Homo sapiens: one gene and its partners. The protein of the gene in region 7 interacts with the protein of the main gene of each other region in a biochemical or structural test. Each region holds a gene or a part of one and is shown on either strand. Other genes may lie near its edges.

Region 1 (3,500 bases), on a different chromosome or scaffold from region 7:
TAATTGCTTCCTTTTATTCATATATAAAAATCCCTTAGATCATGAGATATTTTATTAGTAATTTTTTTAAATGCCTGGTCCAGTATTATATTAACTTAGTTGTATTTATTCATGCACATAAGCTTGAATAACCCCTCATTTTTATCACTCATCTGAGTAAAAATACCACTCATAATTAGTGGTATTATATGTTTTGGAATATAATCCAATTCTACATAAAATCAGTATCATTGAATCAAGCTTGGTGAGTAGGCATCACTTAGAAATATTAGCATGTAGGCAGGGCGCAGTGGCTCATGCCTGTAATCCCAGCACTTTAGGAGGCTGAGGCAGGCGGATCACCTGAGGTCAAGAGTTTGAGACCAGCCTGACCAACATGGTGAAACCCCATCTCTACTAAAAACACAAAAATTAACCAGGCATGGTGGCGTACGCCTGTAATCCCAGCTACTCAGGAGCCTGAGGCAGGAGAATCTCTTGAAGCCGGGAGGTGGAGGTTGCAGTGGGCCGAGATTAAGCCACTGCCATCAAGCCTGGGTGACAGACTGAGACTCTGTCTCGAATTAAAAAAAAATTTAAAAAAAGGAAATATAAGCATGTATTATGAAAATCTAAGTACTATAATAAGAGTTTATTGCAAAAAGTAAATATGGAAGTATGGTTAAATAAAGCTTTAATTGGGTTCCTAACTCCCGTTCCTGAATAGAAATTACTATTTCTGAGGGTATAGATAAAGCAGTAGTCAGCAAACTATGGCCCGTGCGTCAAATGCAGCCTGTTGCCTGTTTTTGTAAATAAAGTTTTATTGTAACACAGCTATGCCCATTTATTTGTGTATTGTCTATGGCTGCTTTCATGTTACAGTGGCAGTGTTGAGTACTTGTGAAACCATATGCTCTGCAAAGCCTAAAATATTTATTATGTGGCCCTTTACAGAAAAAGTTTGCCAACCCTGGATTAAAGGATTGGAAATGAGCAAATGCATACATAGCAAGTAGAGTTAGGTAATGAAAAAATGTATCAGTAACATATTTCACATTGGCCTGATTTCTCTAGAGGTGGTTTGAATCAGATATAGGAACAAAATATGTGTGTCTTGGTAGTAGCATTGATAGTTCAACAACAGACTTTCAACTACATGAAATCAATAATTTGTGGTCATTCTCTACTTATTATACTATCTTCATAAAGTTATCTTTTTATTCTAGCATGTACATAAGGCCCAAAGGGAAATGGACTTTTGGTCACTTTTAGAAGGTCCATGGGATGAAAACACCTACATTAGTTAGAAAGACTAAGGAAAAACTTCATGTTAACCTTAAGTTCAAAGACCATTTGATAACATTAATAACAACCTGAGATGCTGCTGGTGCTCCCTCTTTGCTACTTTTATCACATTGGGATGGAAGTTGTGCTATGAAAATGTATATTTAGAGTGTTTCAAGTAGGTATTAAGCATTTAGAGCTTCAGATAGAAAAGGAGGGACATTCTGGAAAATATACCTTTCAGTAGAAAGTGGGTTATGATGTTGCTATGAATTCTAATCTACTTTAGAAGCTGAAGATAGGCACTTTCTCTCTAAATTTGAAGACACAATCTCTATAATTCCTAGGAGTAAGAACTTATTTTTCTAAGCCTAGACTGGGACACTATCATCTTGGAAAAGACAACATATAGTGACCCAGACTTCAACCTTATATATTTTGTTCTGAATTTGTAAAGTTCTCCCTTTTTTTCTTCTTGGTTCTCCATTGATCAGCATGCACTTTCATTTTTCCCATAGGAAATCTTTATTTCACCAATGCCTTTGTTTCTGAAACACTGATAGAAGTTCTGCGGATCAATACTACTTACCGCCGTGTTCTTCTTAAAGTCACAGTGGACATGCCTAGGCATATTGTTGTAGATCCCAAGAACAGATACCTCTTCTGGGCTGACTATGGGCAGAGACCAAAGATTGAGCGTTCTTTCCTTGACTGTACCAATCGAACAGTGCTTGTGTCAGAGGGCATTGTCACACCACGGGGCTTGGCAGTGGACCGAAGTGATGGCTACGTTTATTGGGTTGATGATTCTTTAGATATAATTGCAAGGATTCGTATCAATGGAGAGAACTCTGAAGTGATTCGTTATGGCAGTCGTTACCCAACTCCTTATGGCATCACTGTTTTTGAAAATTCTATCATATGGGTAGATAGGAATTTGAAAAAGATCTTCCAAGCCAGCAAGGAACCAGAGAACACAGAGCCACCCACAGTGATAAGAGACAATATCAACTGGCTAAGAGATGTGACCATCTTTGACAAGCAAGTCCAGCCCCGGTCACCAGCAGAGGTCAACAACAACCCTTGCTTGGAAAACAATGGTGGGTGCTCTCATCTCTGCTTTGCTCTGCCTGGATTGCACACCCCAAAATGTGACTGTGCCTTTGGGACCCTGCAAAGTGATGGCAAGAATTGTGCCATTTCAACAGAAAATTTCCTCATCTTTGCCTTGTCTAATTCCTTGAGAAGCTTACACTTGGACCCTGAAAACCATAGCCCACCTTTCCAAACAATAAATGTGGAAAGAACTGTCATGTCTCTAGACTATGACAGTGTAAGTGATAGAATCTACTTCACACAAAATTTAGCCTCTGGAGTTGGACAGATTTCCTATGCCACCCTGTCTTCAGGGATCCATACTCCAACTGTCATTGCTTCAGGTAAGTGCACTCCAGGTGCTGCTTGTCCTGCAAGTAGACACAATGGGGTCAACACACATGGATGACTGAGTGTTTCTAATGCATATGAGACTCTAATGTCTTTGTGTGTGCTTGTGTGTGTGTCTGCCTGTATGTGTCCAGGTATAGGGACTGCTGATGGCATTGCCTTTGACTGGATTACTAGAAGAATTTATTACAGTGACTACCTCAACCAGATGATTAATTCCATGGCTGAAGATGGGTCTAACCGCACTGTGATAGCCCGCGTTCCAAAACCAAGAGCAATTGTGTTAGATCCCTGCCAAGGGTATGCCATCATCTTCCTTGTTATATTTCTGTCTGCTTATTTCTGGAAAAAATGGGGCCTGAAATTATGTTCATAGATAGCCAATGTGTTATGGGCTTATAAAACTATGGCTACAGATTCAAAAATGAAAGCATATTGAGTGATTTTACGTGGGAAGGAGGGTGCAGCGCATAGCTCCCTTTGATGGCAGAAAGGTTGGCAACATACTAGGAAGTCAACACCCTGACTTACTAGATCTCCTTTGGACAAGTTGTGTAAGTAGAAATGAAGTTTCTTTTGCCATGTTACTGGCAATTTGCAATTAAAGAATATTGTCCTTTTTTTTTTTTTTAAAGGACTATGAGGTTCCCTGTGAATTAATTATTGACTCCTTTTGTATGACTAGGTACCTGTACTGGGCTGACTGGGATACACATGCCAAAATCGAGAGAGCCACATTGGGAGGAAACTTCCGCGTACCCATTGTGAACAGCAGTCTGGTCATGCCC
Region 2 (2,253 bases), on a different chromosome or scaffold from region 7:
CAAATGGGCAAAATAGAGGCATCATGTGCCATTGGTTCTGTCATACTGGCCTTTGACTGTGTTGGGGAAGTAATCACACAAAAAGTGCCCATAAAACAAAGAAGGCAGCAAGTGAAACTAGAAAAAGGTTGGAACTGTATGAATCAGATTTGAAAGGAGTTATTTCTAAAATTCTTTCTTAGATGACTTGAGGAGGGAAGTGCAGGGGCATCTGGAGTTGGCCCCTCCACTGCCGTCCTGAAGTAAAGTAGATTCAGACTGTCCGTAAAGATTATCATGAGAGTTGGTGACTGCACCCCAAATCAGAGCCAGTTCCCTAAGAAGAATATGGTGCAAAACAAAACAAACCACACATTAAATACATGACACCGAAATCACTTTGATGAGAAAACAGAACACACAGGTATTTTAAAATATAAATAAATACATTTAGCCATTTTTATTCAAGAACCCCAGAGAACTGCTTTAAAAGCAATTGCTTCTTTGAACCCCTTTCTAAATTCTTTCATAAATACTTACTAGTTTGATTGTCACTTAATGCAGCACCTCAGTGTTTGCTGGTGGTGGTGATGGAATTTCACTTAGTTGTCTCTCCATAAACTATATCCTATTCCACTAAATAATGTTTCCCTGAGGAAACCCAGGCAGCTTACAAAATACTGTTATAAACACTCACAACAAAACCTGCAGAGTATTTTATTTAAGAAAAACAAGGAATGTAGTGTTATGACATAGGGGGAAAAAACTATGCAAAACAGTCACATGGAAAGAAAGTATTTTAATTTTTAAAATCCAAGTTTGCTTAATTTCTTGTGAACTGTTCAACACTGTTTTAAATATCCTGAATAACTGTGCCAACAAAATTCATCCCCAGTGTTTCCACAGGAGACATTAAAATTAAAGACCAAATTATACTATTTTTTTCCTTTAACCAAAGTATTCTTTTTCTCAGTCCTTTTTGTGCAAAAATATTACAAGAGCAATTCAAATGGAAATGCTGAAATGACATGCCAACATTTCAGGGCACATTTAAAACACTCAGAATAATTCTTGAAATTATTATATTCTAAAATGTTACTAGCAATCACTTTTAGATTAGTTCTGTACATCTACTCACACGGATGCAATTTTCCTAGACCTCTGAAAAATAAACAGGCTCATTGGTCTCTTTTGGTGTCCACACAATAGGCAAGATAGGTTTACAATAGTGTTTAAATCAAACTAGGCATCTACAATCTCTTGACTCCACCACATTCAAAACAAAAATCAAAGTTCATTTGGCTATCTTGAAATCACTCCCATAAACCAACTACGGTTCACTGGACCTAAACATTTCTCAGAAATGTGTCATTTTATATAATTTCACCTAAGTAAGTGATGATTTGGGGATCCTTTAGAAATGGTTAACGCCTAAGAATAAACTTTATCAAAATGAGTAATTGCAATAAAGTGCTTGTTACATTTCAAAATGATGCTTTTAGACTGTGGTATGTTGTTTTAAAAGTGTGTGCTATTCCTTCCGTAAAGGATCCCCAGGCATGAGAGTTGGGTCTTCTCACCTGTCTCATAAAGCAGCAGCACTATCTTTTGGTAGGCTGACAATAGGCACATTACCCATGCGGATGAGGCTATACTAGTGCTATGGCAAAAGGGGAAGTAAATTAGAAAAGTGGGAGGCATGTAGAGGGTTCCTATTATAGTTATATACAAATATATTAAATATACTATAAAAATAGTCGATTCTATTCCTTTGCAATTACTTCAGAAGCTCCTTTTAGAAGAAAGCTCACCCAATCCAAACTTAAAAGGTTCTCTTTCTCCAAACACTTAAAATGGCAAGTGCCTTTGTGCTGTTTCTTCTCTACCATTCAAAAATTCCAATCAGCTTGTCCTGGCTAGAAAGACTCACTCAGCAACATTAATATCCAGTGTTTACCCCCTTCCAACAGGGACTCCTGTGGGACTAAGGGCCACAGGTAATTGGAAAGGTTATAGACTTGAATGCGTTTTACACAAATATTCATCAACAAACTTTCAATTACCAAAGAAACAGAAAGAAAAAAGCAGAAATACTAAAGTAAAATGCTATTTGCATTCCACTTTTAAAAAGTTTGCCTCAATGTAGTGGAAACATCTGAAAACATGTTGAGTAATATCCAGTTTAAAAGAATTTTCACTTGTCTGCGTAGAGTACTATTTTAAGGATCCCTTTCTAAGGCTTCCTGAACAAGGGTTCTTCTCCCTTCAACAGTG
Region 3 (2,805 bases), on a different chromosome or scaffold from region 7:
AATCTCGGAAGATGAGAACAATGAGTAGGTTAATAAAGGAATTAATGAGGGTTCTGAACTAAGACTTTAATAGAAAAGACAGAGACAAATGTATGCATTTGTGATAAGTAATATGTCAAAAGATGAACTTGGGTTTCTGAATGAATAGTGGCTTTGTTCACTGAGATAGATAATACACAAGAATGAGCAGGTATGGAGGGAAAAGATGACAAGCTGAGTTTGAATTTACACATAATGAATTTTAAGGCATGGTGAGATATCTGATTGAAAATGACCAGAAGATCTTTGGGAGATCAGGAAAGAGATCCTAGTTCAAGCCACAAAGGAATAAATATTTTACCAGGATTTCTTACTTAGGTATCATTGATGGGCTTTAAGTTCTTAAGTCCCTGAAACTGTACACACATTTTTGTGTGTGTGTGCAGGTGAATATGCAGCATGCCTAACTTATTTTCCCTCCTTCTCTTATTCCCCACCCCATGTTAAATATGACAGCTGTCTTTTGCAAGTATCTTTATTCTTTTATTATTCATTTTATTTTCATATAAATTAACATCCTAGAAAAATTGAAATAGAAACACTAAATACAGTATTGCACATAGCGATCTTTGTTAAATGCCCTATTATTTCATTGGAGAATGGTAATATACACACTGGAGGGACTGAAGGGGACAGGAAGACTACAAAACAATAGAAAAAAAACCACTACTGTTTCTTTGCACTTAAACTACAAACTAAAAAGTAAGAGACCATACTTTACATAAATACAAACAATTATGATTTAGAACATTGGTTTTCTTAAGTTGCTTTCCATAATTGGTTTGCAAGAGCAATAAATTCTCCCCTTTATCCACAACTATAACTTGCAACGAAGATCATTAAAAGTAATGGAAAAAAACACCCAGCTCATACAAAACCATCACAATGCATTACGAGCTGACCCAAGTCATTATATGACTTCAGTAAAAAAAATGACCATTTTCTTTCACAAATACATAGTTATGGAGAGCAACCCAAGAGTTGGGAAAGCACTGATTATAAACGGTTCTTAAATTTTAAAATAGAAAATTTATACTTAGACATGAAACTGATACAAACAATTCACTAGAAATAACATTTTACCCATATGTCTAAATGCTGTGATGTGGAGGACTGGTTGTCAGTAGAAAGGAAAGTGTTTTTGCTGTGACGAGGAATATTCTCACAACAGTGAATTGTAGTTAATGTTTAGCATGTTGAGAATTAGTGCAGATACTGCCTCTTACACATGCTGTTTTGGTCTATCGGTATAATACCATAAACTTTTACAAAAAGAAAAGGTGTCAAATTCTCCACTGGTCTAGTACGTTTGCATTTTTATATGAATATACAGTAAAATTCAACAATTAGTGAACTGTCTAGAAAACAAAAAGATTATGCAAGAGGTCAAGAAGAAACATGAGCAGAATGACGGTAGTTTCCCTCCCACTCTCAGGTCAGCTGAATTTTGTGAAAGTCGTTGCAATGACTCATTTTCATTCTGCTTTTCATTGTTCAAGTTTTCATGCTTATCTTTGCTTTCTGAAAACAAATACACCAGATAAAAGTTTTAGTTAGAAAGAACTTTTAAAAATGGAAAGAATTTAGAGTAGCCTAAAAAAGACCTTTTCATTTGGATCAAATTCTGTGGGACAAGGTTAAAGGTCTACCAGTCCATAAAGGAAAAAAGTATAAGTGGGATCTGTGTTATCTTTGAGCACTTTTATCAAGACAAATCGCCAAATACTTTTGAGAAAAAAAAAAGTTTTAAAAATTTAACTTCTAACCAATATGAGAGGGTGTCAAACTCTCCATTCTCATCCTCAATCCTACATGCAAATACATAAATATGAAAACTGAAGTGGCTGCTTCACTTCATGGTAAATGTACTCTAATTATCTTCTGTACTCATAATAGCAAGATTGAGGTTCACTAATAAGTAACTATTCCTCCACATTCAATACAGTTATAAGACTGAATCATCAGGAGCAGAAGATAAGCTGAACTATCATGTAGTAGTTATCATTAGATAAGATCATTTTGATACAGAGAAACTGAAGGCACCACTGCTTCTAAATGAAGATATAATTCCTAACTTTTTAAAAAAAAACAGGGCTATTTAATCATATCCCAATTTGGGTTATTTTAATGTCTTTTCCCTTTAGACTACATTAGACTAATTCAATTTAGAATGGTCCTATCCTAAGGCCTAACTCAACTTTTCATTTAAAACATTTACTTACACTGTGGTACCAAGTGATAATCCCTCAAAACAGTCAACAAAACATCCTCAGTATCACAAGGAAAAGCCTTGTCATTTTAACCAAGCCCTTCCCTCCCAGGGTGGATAACCTGGCATTTTGTTTTAAAGCGGGGAGTGGGCAAGCAGGAAACTTAAATGAGCTTGTTAAACTCCGTCTCTGGACTGACCACTCTCCGGCAGCCAACTCTGCCGAGCCATCTGTGGATATAAACGGGGTCTGGGCACCCTGGGCAAAGCGTCACACTGCTCTTGGCGCTTCCCACCAACTTTACATCCCAGTGGATCTAATCCAATTAGAATGATCACTCGTGGCTCAAATACAGCCTCTGCCGTGATCTGTGTGTAACAAAGAAAGTGAAAGATGGTCTCCCCACCCTGCCCCTGCCAACATGCACATATCCACATAAATGCACACCCTCAGTAGATTCAGTAGATTTATCTTAATTTTTTTTTTTTTTTTTTTGAGACAAAGTCTCACTCTGTTGCCAGGCTGGAGTGCAGTGTTGCAATCTTGGCTCACTGCA
Region 4 (3,500 bases), on a different chromosome or scaffold from region 7:
CCTCTGTGCCTGTGTACGTCATCAGCCTTTATACATTCTAGTCCCTCAGCCACTGCTCATCCTTCTTGATCCACCTCCTCTACTGGTTTTTTGGGGGAGCCTTCCTCTCCCTAGGAAGAGTTAGATATTCCTTCCTTGGTGTATGTAATGAATGTCCATGGTATAACTGGCCCTACTTAAGCATTCTGACACTGGATGACAGTTTGTTTCTCTTTCCGTCTGCCCCTTTCATTAGATGCTTACTTCTGGAGAGTGAAGCCTTGATTTTTTTTTATTTTTTGACTCCCTACCTACATCCCATCCCACCATCGGCCGTGTACACCTCCATGGCCCAAACCTAGTGCTGACACTAACCACGAACTTTGCTTTCTAGCAGATCGAAAAAGCTTCTGCACAATCCACAGCACAGGCTATTTGAAAAGCTGGCCACCCACAAAGATGGGGCTGGATGAAGACAACGAACCAGACAATGAGGGGTGTAACCTCAGCTGCCTCGTCGCAATTGGACGACTGCATTCTCATGTAGTTCCACAACCAGTGAACGGGGAAATCAGGGTGAAATCTATGGAATATGTTTCTCGGCACGCGATAGATGGAAAGTTTGTTTTTGTAGACCAGAGGTAAGAGTCTACATACTACCCTTGAGCAATGATGGTAGAGGATTTTCAACCCTGATCTAAAAAGCAGAGAAGACTGGGCCATCAGCTGGCTTTTCTAAGAATGAAGAAAGAAAGAAAAAGCTGGGTGCAGTGGCTCACACCTCAAATCCCAGCACTTTTTGAGGCCAAGGTGGGTGGATCACTTGAGCCCAGGAGTTTGAGACTAGCCTGGGCAACGTGGCAAAACCCTGTCTCAACTAAAAATACAAAAATTAGCCAGGCATGGTGACACATACCTGTAGTCCCATCTACTCTGGAGGCTGAAGCAGGAGGATCAGCTGAGCCTCGGGAGGTCAAGGCTGCAGTGAGCTGTGATTGCACCACTGCACTTCCGCCTGGGCAACAGAGTGAGACCCTGTTTCAAAAAAAAAGAGACAAATGATGAGAGTCTCTGTTAAAAAATGAGATTCAATAGGATATCATCATAAATACAGAGATTTTTCTGTCATTCTTTGGCATATAGAGACAATTAAGTGGGGTGCCTTGATGTCCATGGCTAAAAGAAAAACAGTAGGGATAGCATGCTGTCTGAATCTATGGAATGTTCCAGAACCATTATTGTGATTGAAATTCTTTTGAATCTAGGACTTGGAAGCAATTATTTAGTCCTGAGCTGTCCAATAAAATACTCGTTGGCCATGGTAGCCTCCCATGTGGCTAACGGCACAGACATAGAACATTTCCATCATCACAGAAAGTCTTGTTGGACAGCGTTGATCTAATCCAACCTCCTTATTTTATGGATGAAGAACAGAGGCCAGCCTGGGGACTGGTCTCCTGTAGGATTCACAATTAATTGGTAATAGACCTGGACCAAGGACCCAGGTGTCCCAAATTTACTGCTGCCTACTGCTTTCCCTCAGAATATGCACAGGCTAATAATTTTTCTGGCTACTAGAGACAGCCACAACATGCTGGAAAAAGAGACAGCCTCAGCTGTCTTGTGGCCTCAGCTGCTGCAGCTTCTGGCATTTGGTTGTCCTGATAAAAAGGAGGCAGCAAAAACTAGAAGCCTTGCACTGAGGTTTAGATTTATACCACATTTTAATCTAATTAATGTGGTTCCTTTTTTAAAGACAGATCTCAGTCTGTCACCCAGGCTAGATCTAGTGCAGTGGCGAGATCTTGGCTTACTGTAGCCTTGACCTCCCGGGCTCAAGCAGTCCTCCCACCTCAGCCTCCCAGGTAGCTGTGACCATAGGCATGTGCCACCATACCCAGCTCATTGTTCTGTGTTTTTGGTAAAGACAGGGTTTCACCATGTTGCCCAAGCTAATCTTGAATTCCTGAGCTCAGACAATCTGCCCAACTCGGCCTCCCAAAGTGCTGGGATGACAGGCATGAACCACCATGCCCGACTGGTTGCAATTTTTAAAGCCCCCTCAGATTTGATTTCTTGTGATAATAGTCCCTTTACAAAGGCTTTGCTCTGTTTCCCTCTATTTTTATAGCCTTGATTAAATTCAGATGCCTGAAAAAAAGAGAGAAAGATCCACACAGTGAGCCCTCTGAAAATCCATCCAGCTCTTTTGCCTGCAGCTTTGACCTTGCTCTCATAGGCTGTAGCAGGGTTTATCCATTGCAAAGTTGCAATTAATCATCTGAATGGCTTTTTCTTCTTTAAATATTCCTTTATTCCCTTTTAGGGCAACAGCTATTTTGGCATATTTACCACAAGAACTTCTAGGCACATCGTGTTATGAATATTTTCACCAAGATGACATAGGACATCTTGCAGAATGTCATAGGCAAGGTAAGCTAGGATGTATGAAAGATCTTAAGTTGAAAGTGTCCCCTTGCTTCTAGACTAGTCAACATGACCTTCCAGGGAAATCTGTCCACTGAGGATGTAGAGTCAGCCAGCCTAGGACTCTTCAGGTCAGAACATCTGTGTGAAGAGGAAGCTGATACCTGCAGGCACTGTTTATCCCCCTTGTAGTTGCCCTGTGCTGACTGCATGGCAGTTTCTGAAAGACATCTCTTGTTCAGAGGGTTTTCCCAGACCCTGTAAAGATTTAGTATGGCCCAGACTGATCTGATTCTCTTTTCCATTCAAGCCTGCACTACCTCCTGTGTTTTCTGTCTTGACTAATGCTGTGGCTTCATGTGCAGGCTCCTGAGAGAGACCAACATTGACCCCTTCTTTCACTGTGTCTCCACCAGATCCTGTTCATTCACCTCAGACATGCATTTCCAAAAGTCTACTTTTTACCACCTCTGCCATCACCCTGGTTCAGGCCCTCGTGCCTACTTAGAGACCTGTGATAGACTTCTCAGGGTTTCTCTGATCCCTCTCACCCCCAGTTCATCTTCCATAGTTATCCTATTTATCCCCAGATAGATTGAGCCTGGTAACATCAGCCTGCTTAAAAACCTCCTGCTTTAGACTCAAGCCCAAATGCTTTTGACAGGCAATCAAATGTGAGACCTTCCACCTTCTGGCCCCAGCCCACCTCCTCAGTTTCAGTCCCCATCCCTGCCTGCAGAGGCCTGTGCTCCAGGCACACTGACCTCACTGGCCTCTCCCCAACCAGACCCTGCTGCTCCTCAGGCACTGCTGGGTTCTTCCCTCCCTCCTTCTCTTGGCAAACTCGTGTTCATCCCTCAAGGCTCTGATCTCTTCTCCCTGTATAGCCTTCCCTCACTACTCTTCTTGAGGGCAGGAGTCATAGCCTGTCTCCTCTTGTATCTCCAGTGCCTGGCACATGAGAAGGGCTCATTACATGTTACATGAAAGAATGAGGTTGAATAGGTGAGTAGCCTCTGTTGATTTGGATGTTCTTAGAAATGAGATAAGTTCTATATTGCCCTTGGGCTTTGTGATTGAGATAAAGCATGACA
Region 5 (3,500 bases), on a different chromosome or scaffold from region 7:
AAAAAATCACCCATAATCTTACTACTTAGAGATAACCTTTGTGAATTAGTGTATTTCCTTTCAATGAGTTTTCTTTGAATCTACATGTATATGTACATAATTGAGATAAGACTGTACAAATAATTTGTATTTTTTTCATTTTTTATTGATTACTATACTGTGATCATTTTCTTACATCATTAAAAATTACTCAGAAGCACAACACAAGCTGGGTGCGGTGGTTCACTTCAGCCCAGGAGTTCAAGACTAGCCTGAGCAATACTGGGAGACCCTGTCTCTAGAAAAAAACACATTTTAAAAAAATTAGCTGGGCACGTGGCATATGCCTGTGGTCCCAGCTATGCAGGAGGCTGAGGTGGGAGGATCGCTTGAGCCTAGGAGGCAGAGGCTGCCGTGGGCCGACATCACACCACTGCACTCCAGCCTGGGCAACAGAGTGAGACCCTGTCTCCCCACCCCTCAAAAAGCATGACATATGCAAGTCATACAGTATTCCACCACATGAACAGAATTCAGAACTCTCCCCTCAACTGTGCACACTTTGTAAAAATTGTCACTGGAGCCGGACACGGTGGCTCATGCCTGGAATCCCAGCACTTTGGGAGGCCGAGGAGGGCGGATCACAAGGTCAGGAGTTTGAGACCAGACTGACCAACATGGTGAAACCTCGTCTCTACTAAAAATACAGAAATTATCTGGGCATGGTGGTGTACGCTTGTAATCCCAGCTAGTGTCAGGAGGCTGAGGCAGGAGAATTGCTTGAACCCGGGAGGCAGAGGTTGCAGTGAGCCGAGATCGTGCCACTGCACTCCAGCCCGGGAGACAGAGTGAGACTCTGTCTCAAAAAAAAAAAAAAAAAAAATTGTCACTGGAAGAAACAGTGCCCGGATGTATGTCCTCACATAGAATCTTTCTTAGGATCTGTGATTGATTATTAGAGTGATGATCAGAAGGGGGAAAATATGAGGTTAAAGTACACAACGTTTTTAAGCTTTTTGCTCATGAAAAAGAGTGAATTCACTTCCACTTCTGCCAACTCACAATGTGTGGGAGTCTGAGGCCACTCAACAGCATGGAACCAGCGCCATCAAAGGAATTTTTGCTCAATTGGAGAAGCAAAGATGGCCTGTAATTTATAACTGTGTCCCCCGCTCCCACCAACAATTCACATGTTTAAGTCCTGACACCCAGTACTTTAGAATGTGACTGTATTTGGAGACAGAGCCTTTATGGTGGTGTATTAGCTTAAATGAGGTCACAATAGGGTTAGTATCTATATGAGAAGAGGAAAAGGCTGGGCTGGGAGGCTGATACCTGTAATCTCAACACCTTGGGAGGCCGAGGTGAGAGGACTGCTTAAAGGCAGGAGTTCAAAACCCATGGGCAATATGGTAAGAACGTAAGTCTACAAAATTTTTTAAAAACTGCCATTCATGGGGGTGGCATGCCTGTGGTCCCAATTACTTGGGAGGCTAGGGTGGGGGGATTGCTTGAGCCCAGGAGTTTGAGGTTACAGTGGGCTATGATTGTGCCACTGCACTCCAGCCTGGACGACAGAGCAAGACTTTGTCCCAAAAAGAAGGGGGTGGGGGGAAAGGAGAGAGCTACCAGGAGCGAGTGCAGAGGAAAGGCCCTGTGAGAACATAGGGAGAGGGCGGCCGTCTACCAGCCGTGAGAGAGGCCTCGCCAGGAACCATTCCTGCTGGCCCTTTGATCTTGTACTTCCAGCCTCCAGAACTGTGAAAAAATAAATGTCTGTTGTTGAAGCACCCCTGTCTGTGGTATTTTGTTATGGCAGCCCTAGCACACTACACACAACTCTTATTTAATGTGCATTACATCACATGTATGACTCATGAGCAAAAGGGAGTATCTGTGTGATTTTGGTGTAGTGTCTATATCTCACTCATTCACCAACTGCACCCATCAAAAAAGTCAGATCAAGGCTGGGCGTGGTGGGTCATGCCTGTACTCCCAGCACTTTGGGAGGCCGAGGCGGGTGGATCACGAGGTCAGGAGCTCGAGACCAGACTGACCAACATGGTGAAGCCCCGTCTCTACTAAAAATACAAAAATTAGCTGGGCGTGGTGGTGCGCACCTGTAATCCCAGCTTCCTGGGAGGCTGAGGCAGGAGAATTGCTTGAACCTGGGAGGCGGAGGTTGCAGTGAGCTGAGATCGCACCACTGCACTCCAGCCTGGGTGACAGAGCGAGACTCTGTCTCAAAAAAACAAAAAACAAAAAAGTCAGATCAAAAACATGCAGAAACCTGCTGCACTCTACCCATGCTGCTGTAGAACGTGCTGCTGTGCTGGACTGACCCATCCTGCCTTGCGGGTGGAGACAGAAGAGCCTCCAGCTGGGTGTCCCACCTCTGGGTGCTGTCTCCACTTCTGGGCACACACTTGCCTTCCCTATCTGGGGAGCCTCCCTGCCGGCAGCTTTCTGCCTGCCTCTGGTGGGAACCTGCCTCAGCAGAAGCCCCAGGGGTCCACAGGCAGCCCCTAAGTGGGCGTGGCTTCTCAGACGTAGCTCCTGGGTGGCACAGGCAGGGCCTCTCTGCACAACCACTTTATCCTTCTCTTTCACTCCTTCAAGCATTGTGACACATGCTTCAATAGGAATGTAAATAATACTTTTCCCCAGTAGAAATTAATCAGAATGGTTCGAAAGAAGTCCTTTGACAAACTCCTGCCACATCAGACCTCAAAGTTTAGGGTCCAGTATTTCTGTGTTAAGTGAATAAAAACACCAAAGGTTTGGAAATGGGGAAACCCTACAAGCCATCCCGTTAATACACCGCCTTCTCTCCAGAAGATGATGGAAATGAAAAAAGAGGGATAGCACCAACCCTGCTTGATAAGGGGCAATCACAAAGTTGCAATTTTCAGAAACTCTAGCAAGTACTGTACAAGGAGGACCGGCTGTCTCTCCGTAAGGCCCTCTGCTCTTCAATCAGAGTTTCCCATTAGGAACTGTTTCCACTTGCAGATCGAGAACAACAGCCTTCTGCCAGAAAGATGCCCACGGAAGCAGAACAAAGCAGAGAGTGCCTCCTGTGGCCCCGTCCTCTGCCAGGCGTGCCGACCACCTACCCAGATCAGGAGCTGCGCCAGGACCACATTCCCCTTGCGGCAGGCCAGATGCAGCGCCGTGCGGCCGTCTCCCTCCCCGCAGGTCTCGTTCACCTCGTCCCGGGAGCCGTGTGCCAGCAGCAGGATGGCCGTCCGCAGGTCCTCGTCGGCGGTGGCCCGCAGCAGGTGCTGGCCCAGGGACAGCTCCGTGCAGGGCAGCGGGGCCAGGAAGAGCTTCTGCTCGTACTTGGCACGGATCCACCGTTCCTTCTCTTCCCTGCAAAGAGCCACCAGACAGGTGCAGTCACGATCAGGCCCGAGAACACAGGCTGCCAGCCCCTGCCCAGTGTGGTCGGGAGAAGCCGAGAGGGAAGTGAAATAACAGAAAGCAAAGGTCTTCACTCGGCACAAAGCCCCCTGGGGGAA
Region 6 (3,500 bases), on a different chromosome or scaffold from region 7:
TGCTCAAGGTTCCAACATGCACGCCCTATATAGGTGCCAAGGCCCATACGGGGTGTTCATTTCTGAGAAGGGGAATGTGTCCACTGGGGAACAAGGGTTTTGCATCTGCATCTGGAGGAAGCACCCCATGGGGTCCTTTGGGTGTCCTCAGCTGGTCACACAGGCCAGGCTAGGCTCTACAGGGACCACTGTGAGTGGTGGCCCCAAGCAGGCCTCACTCCAGGGCCCACTATGGTCTCAACTGAAACCACTCCATTTGACCAGCTTTACATGATGGATTCCACAAAGTTCTGTTTGCAAAAAGAGTTCCCGCAGTTCCCTCAAACAAGGTGTGGATACCCATGAGTAAGCTATTTTACACTCTTCTTGCTTTCAACAGCTTCAGCTACTCATTCATCCATCCACCTCTTCCCTACACACCTCCCAGGTGCCTCCTGATGCCTGGCCATGTGCAGGGCTACCCAACCTGCTCCCAGAGCTCGTGCTGAATGGAGCTGTGTGTGTGGTGGACAGTCAGGCCAGTGCCGCCCAGGGTGCTGACAGACTGTGCTGTGAGAGGCGGGGAGACCCCTGACTTTTATTTATTTTTTTTGAGATGGACTCTCGCTCTGTCGCCAGGCTGGAGTACGATGGTGCGATCTCAGGTCACTGCAACCTCTGCCTCCTGGGTTCAAGTGATTCTCCTGCCTCAGCCTTCCAAGTAGCTGGGACTACAGGAATGCACCACCATGCCCAGCTAATTTTTGTATTTTTAGTAGAGACGGGGTTTCACCATGTTGGCCGGATGGTCTTGATCTCTTGACCTTGTGATCCGCCCGCCTCGGCCTCCCAAAGTACCGGGATTACAGGCGTGAGCCACCATGCCCAGCCGACCCCTGACTTTTAAACAGTGAAGACTGACCCCCCAGATTGTTGAGCCAGTGTGTCGCCTGCTGGCTGGCCCATTTTGGTAGCCTGAAGTAATGTGAGTTTCAACTGTTATTTTATTTCATCTTGCCTTTGTTACTTGTTAATGGATGAGGAAAATGAAAAAGTACAAGTATTAGTGCTGGTGGTAACTCAGCCTCATACAGTTAATAAAATACAAAAAAGATGAGAAGCTTGAGGCATACCCAAGTGGCAAATCTTTAACAAGCTACTTACGTAAGAGAACACATTTGAAACACAGTGTTGAAAACTGTCCCTAAATGGAGAGTGAAACAGGGAGTTCTACAAAAACTGTAACGCTACACCTCCCCAGCTACGAGACTCCCTGCCCAGACATGTCAATCTACCACTGAAGTTCTGCAGACTGGATTTCTGCATACATTTCCATGAAAGAACATCTTATTTTATAGTTCGGGGGCCAGCTTGTTCATCTATGTACCTAGGTGCACTGAAGGCCTCGTGGAGGAGTGACAGTCACAGGGCAGCCTTCATCCACAGCCTACCCTGCCTCACCACTGTCTTCTGCTTCATATCCTCATGACCTAGGACCCAGCTGTCATCTCCTGCTGGATGCCCCTGGCTTCAGATCTGATCGGCCGTCCCCAAGCCACTGTAAGAGCACCTGGGGCTGGTCTCTGCCTACAGCTTTGACCTGTCCAAGCCAGGGCTGCGTAATGCAAAAGCCTTGCCCTGCTCGCGCCCCTCCTGCCATCGGGAGTCAGAACGAGGAAACCATCTAGGCCCTGCAACGCCGCTTGCCTCTCAATGGCAGGGGCCCCCACCATCGGAAGAATTCCTCTGTGCCTGGAAGGCCCCTTTCCCTGCCCTGCATGCACTGGCACGCTCCCACAGCTCTCAGGTCTGCCTCAACTATGAGGACTCATCTATGCGTCTGTCTCCCCTAGGGGTCTGCAAGTCCCTCGCGGGTAGGACTGTCTAGATGAACCCCTCAGGCCACAGCTGGGCACAGCTGATGCTCTGGAAAGGCTGCTGGGAGCAGGGTGGGGATCTGGTCCCAGGCTATTACCTCCTTCTCGAGCAGAGAGGTCAGCTCGTGTGTGGAGAGCCGGTCACCCCCATCTTCAGAAGACAGGTGGACGGGGGCGATGGGCACCTGCTTCTCTTCCCGGAGAGGTGTGGTCTCCACCTGATGCCACCGCTGCTCAATCTCCACGTGGACGTTATGCGTTTTGAGGTCGCTCATAGGCAGCCCTGGGCTCCGGTCCACCTCCATGCGCAGGGCTGCATCCTCAGTGCCTGGCCCGTCTGTGGCGTCGAGCATCCCGAAGCGCTTGCGGCGCTCCTCCCGCCTCCGTGCACGCTCCCGCTCCAGCTCCCCAGGCTCCGCCTCAGGGCGCAGGGGCTCGTGGGTGTCAGCAGGCCCCACGCCGCCCACCCGCTCCTGAGCCAGGGCCTGCTGGATGGGACGGAACTCAGCCCAGTCAAAGGTCTTGGAGCGGCCCTCTCGCCTCCGCTCCCGTGCGCGGCTCCTCTTCTGCTCAGGGTCCGGCTCCCCCAGCTCTGCCTCTTGCTTCTCAGTAGGCCTCGGGCAGGTCTCAAAAGAGCAGCTGCTCTTGTTTTTTTCCTCTGGCAACGAGCTGTGGGGCAGGAGGATGGACATAGCCTGTCAGGGGCGGCTCTGGTGTGGCCTGCCAGGCAGAAGCTGGCAATGCTGAGCCACAACCCAGCCCCTGTGAGCACCACATCCTTTTTCTATCCTAATCCCAGCTTCCTAAGTGCAGGGAGGACAGGAATACTCTGCCTTTACCCCACATCCCTTCCCAAACTGGTTCTGAGTGGGGGAGGGGGAGGGGGACGGGGAGGGGAAGGGGAAAGGAAGGGAAAAGAGCCTCAGAAAGCTGAGGTTTCCCACATAATGACACTGGGGGGGTCCCTTGACTGAAGAGGCTGTGAGGGGCTCACTGTGGTGGTCCCGTTGCCAGGGTATGGAGCCAGGGGAGTCCCAGGACTCCCACAGCCTCAGAGGCAGGACGGGCCAGCCCTGCCTTGCTCAGGGCCAAGAACTACATTAGGCTGCACCTGGGCACAGCCACCGTACCTGCCAGGTGAGGCCTGGGCCCTGTGCACCCCTGGACTGGACAGTGGTGACAGAATGAGGGAAAACTAGCACTTTCTAGAAGGGCTTACCTTTTAATAAGCAGGTAACGTGATCAGATCTATGTTTTGTTTTTTTTTTTTTTGAGATGGAGTTTCACTCTTGTTACCCAGGCTGGAGTGCAATGGCGCGATCTCGGCTCACCACAACCTCTGCCTGCTGGGTTCAAGCGATTCTCCTGCCTCAGCCTCCCAAGTAGCTGGGATTACCGGCATGCGCTACCATGCCTGGCTAATTTTGTATTTTTAGTAGAAACGGGGTTTCTCCATGTTGGCCAGGCTGGTCTCAAACTCCTGACCTCAGGTGATCCGCCTGCCTCCCAAAGTGCTGGGATTACAGGCGTGAGCTACTGTGCCCAGCCTGAATCTATGTTTTAAAAGCCCAATCCAGCTGCTGGCATGACAGATGGATCAGTATGAAAGACTGGGACCTCCTAAGGGTGAGGGAAACAGGAGGC
Region 7 (3,500 bases):
AGACATGTAGCCCTTCAACTAACTTATTTTATTTATTTATTTTTTGAGATGGAGTTTTGCTCTTGTTGCCCAGGCTGGAGTGCAATGGCGTGATCCCAGCTCACTGCAACCTCCACCTCCTGGATTCAAGTGATTCTCCTGCCTCAGCCTCCCCATTAGTTGGGGTTTACAGGCATGTCACCATGCCCAGCTAATTTTTTTTTTTTTTTTTTTTTTTTTGAGACACAGTCTCGCTCTGTCACCCAGGCTGGAGTGCAGTGGCGCGATCTCGGCTCACTGCAACCTCCGCCCTCCGAGTTCAAGCAGTTCTCCTTCCTCAGCCTCCTGAGTAGCTGAGACTACAGGTGCCCGCCACCACGCCCGGCTAGGTGTTTTTTTTTTTTGTATTTTTAGTAGAGACAGGGTTTTACCGTGTTAGCCAGGATGGTCCCGATCTCCTGACCTCAGGTGATCTGCCTGCCTCCGCCTCCCAAAGTGTTGGGATTATAGGTGTGAGCCACCGCGCCTGGCCTACTTTTTTTATTATTTTTTTTTTTGGAGACAAGAGTCTCGCTCTGTCGCCCAGGCTGGAGTGCAGTGGCGTGATCTCGGCTCACTGCAAACTCTGCCTCCCGGGTTCATGCGGTTCTCCTGCCTTAGCCTCCCAGGTAAACTGGGACTACAGGTGCATGCTGCCACGCCTGGCTAATTTTTTTTTTTTTTTGTATTTTAGTAGAGACGGGGTTTAACCATGTTGCCCAGGCTGGTCTCCATCTCCTGAGCTCAGGCAATCTGCCTGCCTTGGCCTCCCAAAGTGCTAGGATTACAGCCGTGAGCCACCGTGCCTGGCCTTCTGGCCTTTTTTTTTTTTTTTTTTTTTTTTTTTGAGACGGAGTCTTGCTCTGTTGTCTAAGCTGGAGTGTAGTGGCACAATCTCGGCTCACTGCAATCTCTGCCTACCAGGGTGCAAGCGATTCTCCTGCCTCAGCCTCCCAAGTAGCTGGGACTACAGGTGCGTGCCACCATGCCCGGCTAATTTTGTGTGTGTGTGTGTGTGTGTGTGTTTTACTAGAGACGGGGTTTTACTTTGTTGGCCAGGCTGGTCTTGAACTCCTGACCTTGTGATCCACCTGCCTTGGCTTCCCAAAGTACTGGGATTACGGGTGTGAGCCACTGCGCCTGGCTTTTTTTTGGAGAGATAAGGTCTTGTTTTGTCATCTAGGCTGGAGTGCAGTGGCACAGTCATAGCTCATGGTGGCCTCCAACTTTTGGTGTCAAGGTATCCTTACGCCTCGTCCTCCCTAGTAGCTGGGACTACAGGTGTATGTGCCACTGCGCCCAGCTAATATTTTTACATTTTGTAGAGATGGAGTCTTGCTGTCTTGCCCAGGTTGGGTCTCAGACTCCTGGGCTCAAACAGTCCTCCCACCTCAGACTCCCAAAGTGCTGCAAGTACGGGCATGAGCCACTGAGTCCAGCTATCTTCAACTTTCACTATTCAGGTTACAGTTTGTAGTACCTTTTTTCGGGGGTGGTGGGAGGGTAGTGGGAGTAGCACCCTAAGATTTCTTGGAATAAAACAGGGCTTACTACTTGGTTCCTGGTACTTAAGAACAGTGGTTCCTAGACTCCACTGTTCCCAAACTTGGAATCCAGTTCCCCAAATTGGAATCACCTGAGGTTTAATTACCTTCATGGAGGTTTAATTTGCATACAATAAAATGCACATACTTTAAATGATAGTTTGATAATTTTTTTGTTCTTATTTTTTTTAGACATAGGGCCTTGTTCTGTCACCCAGCTGAAGTGCAGTGTCGGAATCATGGCTTACTACATCCTCGACCTCCTAGGCCCAAGAATTCTCTGCTTTAGCCTCCCGAGTAGCTGGGACTGCAGGTGTGCACCACCACGCCTGGCTACATTTTTATTTTGTAATTTTTTTTTTTGTAGAGAGAGGGGTCTCACTATGTGCTCAGACTGGTCTTGAACTCCTGGCCTTAAGTGATTCTCTCGTCTCAACCTCACAAAGCCCTGGGATTATAGGCATGAGCCACCACAAACCGCCAGTTTGATAAATTTTGATGAATGTGTATACCCAAGTAATTGCCACTCAGTCGAGTTAAAGAGCATTTCCTCAAGGCTTTAAATTTTTATTTTTATTTTTGAGACGGAGTCTTATTCTGTCATCTAGGAGTGCAGTGCCGCAATCTTGGCTCACTGCAGCCTCTGCCTCCCGGGTTCAAGTGATTCCCCTGCCTCAGCCTCCTGAGTAGCTGGGACTACAGGTGCGTGCCACCACACCCAGCTAACTTTTTGTATTTTTAGTAGAGATGGGGTTTCACTCTGTTAGCCAGGATGGTCTCGATCTGATCTTGTGATCCGCCTGCCTCTGCTTCCCAAAGTGTTGGGATTACAGGCGTGAGCCACCGCGCTCGGCGGGTTTCTTTTTTTTTTTTTTTATGAGATGGAATCTCGCTCTGTTGCCCAGGCTGCAGTGCAGTGGCACGATCTCAACTCACTGCAACCTCCGCCTCTCGGGTTCAAGCGATTCTTCTGCTTCAGCCTCCCGAGTAGCTGGAACTACAGGCACCCGCCACCACGCCCGGCTAATTTTTTGTGTTTTTAGTGGATACGGGGTTTCGCCATGTTGGCCAGGCTGGTCTCAAAGGCCTGACCTTGTGATCCTCCTGCCTCGGTCTCCCAAAGTGCTGGAATTACAGGTGTGAGCCACTGCTCCTGGCCTAAAGTTTTTTAGACTAGTTTTTTTGTTCATTCGTTTTATTTGCTTGGCTTCCTAGAATATGACAAGTTTTGGTTTGTTTTTGAGACAGAGTCTTGATCTGTTTCCCAGGCTGGAGTGCAGTGGTGCTATCGTGGCTCACTGCAGCCTCTAACTCTTGTGCCCAAGTAATACTCCTGCCTCAGCCTCATGAGCATCTGGGACTACAGGCAAGCACCACCATACCTAGTTAATTAATTTAATTTTTATAGAGATGACGTTTTGCCATGTTGTCCAGGCTGGTCTCTAACTCCTGAGCTCTGGCCTCGCAAAGTGGTGGGATTATAGGTGTGAACCACTGCACCCGGCCTAGTTTTTTATTTTAAGAAATATATATACTTGGTAAAAGTAAACTCCTGCAATAAGGTTTACAATAAGCATATATAAATTCTTAGCCAGCTCACTGGGAGGTACCTAATGGTTCATTTTTCTTTGTCAGTTTTACTAGATACGCATTGTCTTAGAGGCAATGTAAGTTTGGAATTAGGCCAAACAAAGTCAAATCCTGATTCTGTGCATCCATTGAAGGTTAACCTTATAATATTTACATTTTGAGATAAATGATTTCATGCTCTTATTTAGGAAACTTGACGGTATGTTACCTCAGGGATTGTTCCTTGCCTGTCTTTCCCCAAAGAACTTGAGTTTGAAGTGATTTTCACTTGGCAGTAAATTGAAGGTTTTCTTCATTGCTTACCACCATGTGCCTTATTCCTGCTGCTCTTGATCTCCAAGTGCCCTT

Evidence for each region.
Region 1: the proteins of RHOA (region 7) and LRP2 form a complex in vitro, tested with the Homo sapiens proteins (one study listed by BioGRID).
Region 2: the proteins of RHOA (region 7) and CLOCK form a complex in vitro, tested with the Homo sapiens proteins (one study listed by BioGRID).
Region 3: the proteins of RHOA (region 7) and FMN2 form a complex in vitro, tested with the Homo sapiens proteins (one study listed by BioGRID).
Region 4: the proteins of RHOA (region 7) and BMAL1 form a complex in vitro, tested with the Homo sapiens proteins (one study listed by BioGRID).
Region 5: the proteins of RHOA (region 7) and AGAP1 form a complex in vitro, tested with the Homo sapiens proteins (one study listed by BioGRID).
Region 6: the proteins of RHOA (region 7) and MPRIP form a complex in vitro, tested with the Homo sapiens proteins (one study listed by BioGRID).

The regions. Positions count from the first base shown.
Region 1 is NC_000002.12:169,205,535-169,209,034, reverse strand, and holds part of LRP2 (low-density lipoprotein receptor-related protein 2 precursor), read left to right. Parts: intron 1-1,784; coding exon 1,785-2,705; intron 2,706-2,846; coding exon 2,847-3,012; intron 3,013-3,397; coding exon 3,398-3,500. UniProt on the Homo sapiens protein: Multiligand endocytic receptor. Acts together with CUBN to mediate endocytosis of high-density lipoproteins. Mediates receptor-mediated uptake of polybasic drugs such as aprotinin, aminoglycosides and polymyxin B.
Region 2 is NC_000004.12:55,429,657-55,431,909, forward strand, and holds part of CLOCK (circadian locomoter output cycles protein kaput), read right to left. Parts: 3' UTR 1-2,253. UniProt on the Homo sapiens protein: Transcriptional activator which forms a core component of the circadian clock.
Region 3 is NC_000001.11:240,472,883-240,475,687, reverse strand, and holds the end of FMN2 (formin-2), read right to left. Parts: intron 1,561-2,805; coding exon 1,534-1,560; 3' UTR 501-1,533; downstream 1-500. UniProt on the Homo sapiens protein: Actin-binding protein that is involved in actin cytoskeleton assembly and reorganization. Acts as an actin nucleation factor and promotes assembly of actin filaments together with SPIRE1 and SPIRE2.
Region 4 is NC_000011.10:13,371,790-13,375,289, forward strand, and holds part of BMAL1 (basic helix-loop-helix ARNT-like protein 1), read left to right. Parts: intron 1-373; coding exon 374-620; intron 621-2,305; coding exon 2,306-2,412; intron 2,413-3,500. UniProt on the Homo sapiens protein: Transcriptional activator which forms a core component of the circadian clock.
Region 5 is NC_000002.12:236,120,043-236,123,542, reverse strand, and holds part of AGAP1 (arf-GAP with GTPase, ANK repeat and PH domain-containing protein 1), read right to left. Parts: intron 3,352-3,500; coding exon 3,096-3,351; intron 1-3,095. UniProt on the Homo sapiens protein: GTPase-activating protein for ARF1 and, to a lesser extent, ARF5. Directly and specifically regulates the adapter protein 3 (AP-3)-dependent trafficking of proteins in the endosomal-lysosomal system.
Region 6 is NC_000017.11:17,157,457-17,160,956, reverse strand, and holds part of MPRIP (myosin phosphatase Rho-interacting protein), read right to left. Parts: intron 2,526-3,500; coding exon 1,955-2,525; intron 1-1,954. UniProt on the Homo sapiens protein: Targets myosin phosphatase to the actin cytoskeleton. Required for the regulation of the actin cytoskeleton by RhoA and ROCK1.
Region 7 is NC_000003.12:49,401,977-49,405,476, reverse strand, and holds part of RHOA (transforming protein RhoA isoform 1 precursor), read left to right. Parts: intron 1-3,500. UniProt on the Homo sapiens protein: Small GTPase which cycles between an active GTP-bound and an inactive GDP-bound state.